Homo sapiens: one gene and its partner. The gene in region 1 interacts genetically with each later gene. Each region holds a gene or a part of one and is shown in the gene's direction. Other genes may lie near its edges. The genes, in order: FIP1L1 and APOOL.

The links.
Region 2: changes in FIP1L1 (region 1) and APOOL together harm fitness more than expected from each alone (negative genetic interaction), as found in Homo sapiens cells (one large-scale study listed by BioGRID).

Annotation. Positions count from the first base shown.
Region 1 is NC_000004.12:53,425,967-53,429,801, forward strand, and holds part of FIP1L1 (pre-mRNA 3'-end-processing factor FIP1), read left to right. Parts: intron 1-2,060; coding exon 2,061-2,217; intron 2,218-3,835.
Region 2 is NC_000023.11:85,052,215-85,056,049, forward strand, and holds part of APOOL (MICOS complex subunit MIC27 precursor), read left to right. Parts: intron 1-2,129; coding exon 2,130-2,184; intron 2,185-3,612; coding exon 3,613-3,711; intron 3,712-3,835. UniProt on the Homo sapiens protein: Component of the MICOS complex, a large protein complex of the mitochondrial inner membrane that plays crucial roles in the maintenance of crista junctions, inner membrane architecture, and formation of contact sites to the outer membrane.

The DNA of each region.
Region 1 (3,835 bases):
TTTAGTATTTTAAAATAAATAATTTTCTTTAACTGAAGGATGATATCAACATTATAATTTAATTTATTCAATAGATAGTCATAGTGCTATGCTGTGTTTTAGGTGATACAAAGAGATTTAAAATGTGAAGCCAGTCATTTATTATAAAGGCATTTCCAGTTAGAATTTATAATCTCTGAATCTTTTTTTAATAGGGTTTTCTTTCTTTTCCTTGGTAGAAACATAGTACAGGTTGAGTATCTCTTATCTGAAATGCTTGGGACCAGAAGTGTATCAGATTTTGAAATGTTTGGATTTTGAAATGTTCATACGTATGTAATCTTAGAGATGAGACCCAAGTCTAAACATGAAATTTATGTTTCATAAATAAGTTATTTAATTTGTTATAATGATTTGTTAATTTATGATAATCTTTTTTCCTTTGGCAACCCTGAGTAAACTGTGTAGTGGGCCTGAGTTTTGATTGTGATCCGTCACATGTGAGGTTGGGTGTGGAATTTTCCACTTGTGATAAAATGTTGATGCTCAAAATGTTTCGGATTTTAGAGCATTTCAGATTTCAGATTTTTGGATTAGGAATACTCAACTTGTATATAGGTTTACTGAATGAAAAATAAAAGACCACCAGTGATTTTACCACCTAAAGATAACCACATCTGGTACATCTCTTGATACTAAGCAAAATTGGGATACTATTATAATTATATTTCTGTGTATACTTTTTTCCCCATCTAAAATTATCATTTGTATGTTTTCATATTCTTAAAATATGATTAAAATATCTTCATGATAGCTTCATTGGATAAATATACCATGATTTATTTAATGTGACATTTCTGGAGGTGGCGTAGAGCTGCTTTGTTTTTAGGTGAAAAATTGAGGGGAGATAAATTATCAGTAAGTTGGATAATTAATGTTAGAACTTTAATAACTGAGACTTCCAGCTATTCATTTTGGCCATACTTTTTTTCATTATTTATTCCTATTTTCTGAGTCCTTTTAAAAATGTCCAGAGCACTTTATTCTTACCTTTGATAAGTTGATCATGTAAAATATTCCTTTTAGCATCTTTAAAGGCAAATCATTTCTATAGTGGAAGATGTTAGTCCATTTTTCCTTTCCCCTTACCATTAAAATGCCACGATTTCTCAAAATAAATACTTTAAGAAATAGCTTATCAGCATAAGCCCTACAAAAAACACTGCACTTAAATGTAGGAAGTGTTAATGGAAAGAGGGATTGTATGTTTAAAAGATTGCTTTAGTCAGCAAGGATCTGAGAAGTATAAATTAAATATACAACATTATGTTGGCTGTCTTTCCCAAATTTATTTACACATCCTTGGGGAGCTTATCAAAAATCCAGATTTTGAGGTGCCACTTTGCTTGTTTTATTTCAGTAGGTTTGGGGTGCTTCTTATGGTGCCTGTCCCTTAACCTGTTCACACAAAGAAGCATTTTGCAAACATTGCTTTATTTTTCAAGAATAAACCCTGGTCTTAAAGTTACAAGGCTCACATGATAAAGTTACTTACATATCTTGCTGCCTATTGCTTGCAGTCTGTTGACACATGCCTGACAGTTTCTTACTTTGCAACCTGGTGATGACAGGCCCTTGTACAGTGAATGTCTGACCTGCTGCCATGTTAATTTCTTAAGGCCAGTGTCTGTGATTAATGATTACATTGCCTTAATTGAATACTTCAACTTTGGTTGGGTGACAAAGATAATACTTGTTAAATGATCTTTATGAAGTACTTTTTTCTTGTGTGGAGTGTTTGTATTAATTACTTTTTATTAAGAAATTTTTGGTAATGATCCAGTTGTTTTTTCTTAAGATTTGAATATGCACATTTTTAAAACTGTATGTATGTGTATACTCACACAGGCGTATGTATACACATATCACACATGTAGAACTATTACTCTCCCCCCAAAAATACATATATGTGAATTAAACTACCTTTTACTTTGTTTCTTAGATTAAATGAAATTAATTTACTAAGATTAATCTTACATAATATTTATGCATCTGTTTAATTAACTGTGCTCTAATTTTAGGTCCTTTCTGAAAGATCTGCTACTGAAGTAGACAACAATTTTAGCAAACCACCTCCGTTTTTCCCTCCAGGAGCTCCTCCCACTCACCTTCCACCTCCTCCATTTCTTCCACCTCCTCCGACTGTCAGCACTGCTCCACCTCTGATTCCACCACCGGGTAAATAGTAAATAAGACATTTGACTTTGAAAGAAAAATAGCTTGCGAGTGTTTTTTAAAATTTTTGACAATTAAAATAATATCTTGATCACATTTCATTAAAAGTAATAGATATAATATCTTCAACAGATTCACACTGAAACAGATATATATATGTTTATTGCTATTTCAATATAGGAAAGAGACAATGTTCTAAAATTAAGAAGAATATACAGATACCAATCTTGTGATTCAAAAATATGATAATGATCCCCAAACTTAAGTTGCTAATAGAATATGTATAAATCCATACTCAGTTACAAACTTTACCAGTGTTAATTTGTTTTGAAAAAAACATTAAAAGATACTTTCAGGATGGGAGTAGATCAAAAAATTATATCTTGCGAAGAGATTGATTAATATTTCAGTCTGGTCTTCTTCTGTATACCGGTTTCCTTTTAGGAGACTGCTACTGGGTGCCTGGTATTTATTTCTTTTAAACAAAAGTAAATGTTGATCATATTTTTAGCTACTTTTGATTACAATTAAAAACCAGGTTAGTGGTGATAGAGAAGAAACTCACAAATAATTCCCAAATTTTATTTTTATTTGAATTTTTCATCGGGTTGCCTTTCTTACTTTGTTTTTAACCTTTATCTGCCTTAACCAAGTTTTTATGAAACTAGCAAGATTGATTGAGATAATAATTACTTCTTCCCAGGGAGAAAGCTAGTAGTAAATGATGAAAAAATAGCTGCTTGTCCTCATCAGGGCAACATGAAAGACGTATGTTAGGCTTTACTTCCTATTAATCAAATCAGTTTATACTAGAGAGCCATGTACTCTCACTCACTTTTATTTGCAAGAGAGCTGTCTTTGTTTTAAGGTGCCAGTTGTGATCCGAGTACAGAACCAAATCCAGGGTCTGAATAGTCCTTCCCTAACATATTCATCCTTGGCCTCTAAATGTCAGCCACTGCTTCTGTCTTTCATCTTCAGTGCCTTTGATTTCCTTCCACTGTCACCTCTACTCTCAAAAAGTATGAGAAAAATATGAAAAAATGACTTGTGGCTTTAGAGGGTCTGTTGTCTCAACAATAGTGGAAGGAAGAGGTTGGAATATAGGTTAGAGGTCCTTATTCCAGACAACATTAGTATTTCTAATTTCAGTGAATTTCTAGTTCCAACAAATAGATTGAGCAGAAACGACTCATTAGTTGGGATTGACTTGTGGTTCTTGTGTCTTTAATATGCTGAGTATTAACCAAATGAAAGAGGACTTAGGTGATTCAAAATGAGGACTTCTGTGATTTCTATGTGAATCCTTTGTCCTCTGAAAAAGAATTAGATAAATAAAAGGTAGAAATAATTAATGTTTCAACATATTTGATTAATGATACTAAAAAAATTATTAATGTTTGTGGTACTCTGTTGGATTCCTTTGTAATATTACTTAAACTTTACTAGGTAGTGATTTGAAATAATTTTCTTTTTTTAATTCTTAAAACTTTTTAAAAATTTTATTTTTGACAGTAATACTTGTATATGTTTATGGGGTACAATGTGATGTTTTGATTATGTCTACATTGTAGTAAATCAAGTTAATATATTCATCACCTCACATACTTAACATTTTTTT
Region 2 (3,835 bases), on another chromosome or scaffold:
CTTCTTTGGCTAAGTAAAGTGTTATTTACTTGTTGGCGTTAGCTCATAAGACCATTCTAACTACAGTAAGCTATTGGGCAAAGTAGAATACACGTGACTTTAATGCTTAGCCTTCAATCAGCAATATCCATCAGCAGAGTGGTGGAGTAAGCTGATGCAACACTAATGTTTCATTATCATCACATAAACATCATTGTGTTAGCATCTCCAGTGTCAGTATCTTAATGTTGGTACCAGTGTTTTCATCATTCTAACCTAGTAACCATGCGACTTTTCCCCAAATATAGCCTGATGGTGAATCATTGTTCTTTTTAGTTTCTATCCATTATCTTTAAAAAGAAATCTAATGAACTTATGAAAAATAATTTGTGCTTAGGTGAAATACCAAATCAATGAACTCTGGTAATTCCAGATAATATTTCAAATATCTGATAAGTACATGATGTTATTTTTGAAAACTTGTGTTTGTCATACAATTCTTATGGTACTAGTTGTACTACACACTATTAATAGTTTGATCTAAGAGGGAAATACCTTAACCAATTATGGTCTGAATCATGCCCCTATGACTATGTGCCAATAGCTAGATGATTCAGACTTAAGCCTCCTGAGATGTAATTTTCCATAATGTTCTGAAATTTTTCTTCAGTGAGATAAAATGTTCCTGAGAGGTCTTTAAATTGCTATTGTAACTGTCATCCAATTTAAGATTCAAAAGAATGTTTTATTCCATTAATATGCTCAAACAAATAGGTTGAAGAAAGGCAATTTCCAGTGCATTTTGTCCTAAATGTAAACAATTTTTTTTCCTAATTTTCCCCTAAAAATGTAATCCATTCTTTAAAAATTATGTCTGACTCAAATTCGTTCCACATTAAAGCTTGAATCATGTAGAGCAAATTCAATTTCTACTCCTGCTAGCTTAGTGTTTTGAAATTTAGGTAGCACTGACCCCATGTGGTAAAAATGAATTCCTTAGCAGAGCTAAGAAAAATTTTTTTTGAAAGATGACTAATTTTCTTCCTTAATGGTTAAATGATTCCCAATCGACTGGTCAATAGGTATTTTAACTTTGAAGGTGAAATATTCTCAAGACAGTCCCTACAGAAAAGTAGTTCAATAGCAGTTAGCGTTTATGCTGATTTGTACAATTTTAAACCAAGATGAACCTCTGCATCTCTCTGATAACCATTAAAATATGTAAGACAAAATTACAAAACCAAGCTATCTCTATAACAAAAACTTATTTCTTCCCTGTCCAATATAATAATATCTGTTTTCTCTGCTTTGAAAGTCTCTTTTGTTCTTGTTTTTATCCCATGGTTTCATAGCAGCTAGTTCAGAGAAGGATTGTGTTTTCTGGTTCCATCAACAGAGTACAATATGACCACGAGTAAATCATTTTGTGACTTCCTTTTTTTTCTTATCTAAGTGAGGTAATACCTAGCACTCAATAAATATATTTAACACTCTTTTGCACTAAAATAAATCAGTTAGAAACAGGTAAAGTTAAAGATTTGCTTTAAAACTTTAATTCCTCTGATGTATTAACATAGTTTTGATTTCTAGAGAATTTATGTTCCGATTTAAAAACAGGATAAACACTGGTCTATGTAGGATGATTTCTGTCCTGAGGTAATTTAGATTTTTTTCTCATTCTAATGCACACTAAGAAAAGGGAGGAAGATGAAGCCCTTTGCTTTAGGCTTTTTGCTCTTTTTTTCCCTCCACAAATCATTATGTTGTTGCTATTGCAACTTTATTAATCAGATGTTGCTTCTAAACTGAAATATACCTCCCTTCTTCTTTATTTAAATTCCATTTATTTTTCTAGGTCATTATAAAATAAGATGATAAATATTTTTTTCAGTATCATTTCTGCTCTGATTATTTCATAGGCACATTATCCATTTATATGAGAAAAATGATATAAATGTTATCCATGTTAAATAGAATGAAAAGCAGGAAATGAAAACAAGCTGGTAGTGAATACATAGGAAAGCTGGATTTAGATTTGGGCATAATGTTAAGTCAACCTTTTAATATAATCTCAGAGATGCAGGCAATTTTATCTCATTATCAACAGCTTCAAAAATGCAGATGTCTTCCCCCCCTTTTTTTTTGCTTAGGGTGTTTATGTCTTTGTGAAAAATGGGATAATGGATACAGTACAATTTGGAAAAGGTAGGTGAGTAGATAATTAGAAATGTTTTATTGTGTTTTTAAATTGCATTGTTTAAATGTGAGAAAAATAAACTTGGTATGTTACCCATTATCATGCATTTACCAACTCAGAAGGTACTCTCTATAGCAATTTATTGATTAATTTATTGATTATTTGTTGATTATTGATTAATAGCAAAGCAGTAATATTCATTATTCAGCAGTTATTATTGGCTAAGGTGTTGTACTTAGCATTTTACATAATTTTTGTCACAATTATGTTAGTATTGGTATTATAATTATTCCCATTTTACAGATGAGGGCAACTGAGGTTTAGGAAGGTTAAGTAGGTTATCGAGCTTACGTAACTGTAAGTGGTAGTGCCAGGATACAAACTGAGGTCTGTTTTAACTACAAAGTCTATATTATATATCATAAAGCATAAATTAAAAACATGTCTCCATTGTTGCTAATTAGTTTAAGTGCTACTTGCTGTTAAAATACATTGTATTTTGCTGTCAATTGCTAGGAAATGTTATAGCAATCACTAACCCTGGAATATTTAAGCTAATGGTTAAAAAGCAATTATACTTGACTCTTTAGCTTGTTAATGGTGTTTGGCAACAGATATAGCTTTGTAATATTCTTGGCTTATGCCAGTTGTCATAATAAATATGTATAGGAGATAGAAAGATGAGCTAAAATGTTGAATGTTTCCATGAAGTTGATGACCTGTATTTGAATTGTCATTATTTAATGTATTAGGAATAAATTCAAAATTATATTCCTCATCAATCATGAGGAATAGGATTAAATATGTGATTGCCATTAAATAATTAACTATGATAGAAAAGTGTACTTTTGGAACCAGAAACAAATTCAACATATAGAAAGCCAAGAACTACTCTTCATCTACTTTTTGTCTAGGCTCACTGATGATTGACTTTAACCAACAGCAGTGGCTGTCCTGAGGTTATTAGGGAGTAGTGGCAAGCAAGGTCTAGTAGCTGTGTATATCCTTAAACTATTATTCAAAACTCCTTAATAAAGTATCTATTTCATTTCTTATTGGAGGCTACCAGTGTTTGAACAGATAAGGGCAGAAGTTCATCATAGAGATATAATACATACGCAGTCAGAAATTTACCTTATAGTAACCCATATTAAGATGTGCCCTCTAGCATTACATTTCTTTATAGTAATAACCGTCAGTATCATTAGGAAAAGAAATATTAAATCAGCTACGGAAGGAAAATTTTATTTTGTAACAAGTAAATATATCTAGTTTTTTAGCTTGCTACTCATATTGTCATTATATGTAGCTCTTTTGAAGAATATTTAAACCTCATTATTATCTTAGCAAATCTCTTTAACCTTCCTGCATTATAACTGTATAGAATATCCAGTAGAATTCAGTTATTCATGTTAATTTTTAACTGATTTCTTGAGATGCTTATGTCTATCTGAAGAATCCTCCTCGAGATTTTCTTCCGAAAATGGGAGTTATTACAGTTTCAGGATTGGCGGGCTTGGTTTCAGCGAGAAAAGGTAGGGTTTTAAAAAATATATTCTCTCTTAATGCCATGATATTAGTTTCTGAATTTTGTGGTCATGAGAAAACCTCATATGCTTTATTGAATATTATCTGGATAGGCTACTGTAAAGATTTTTA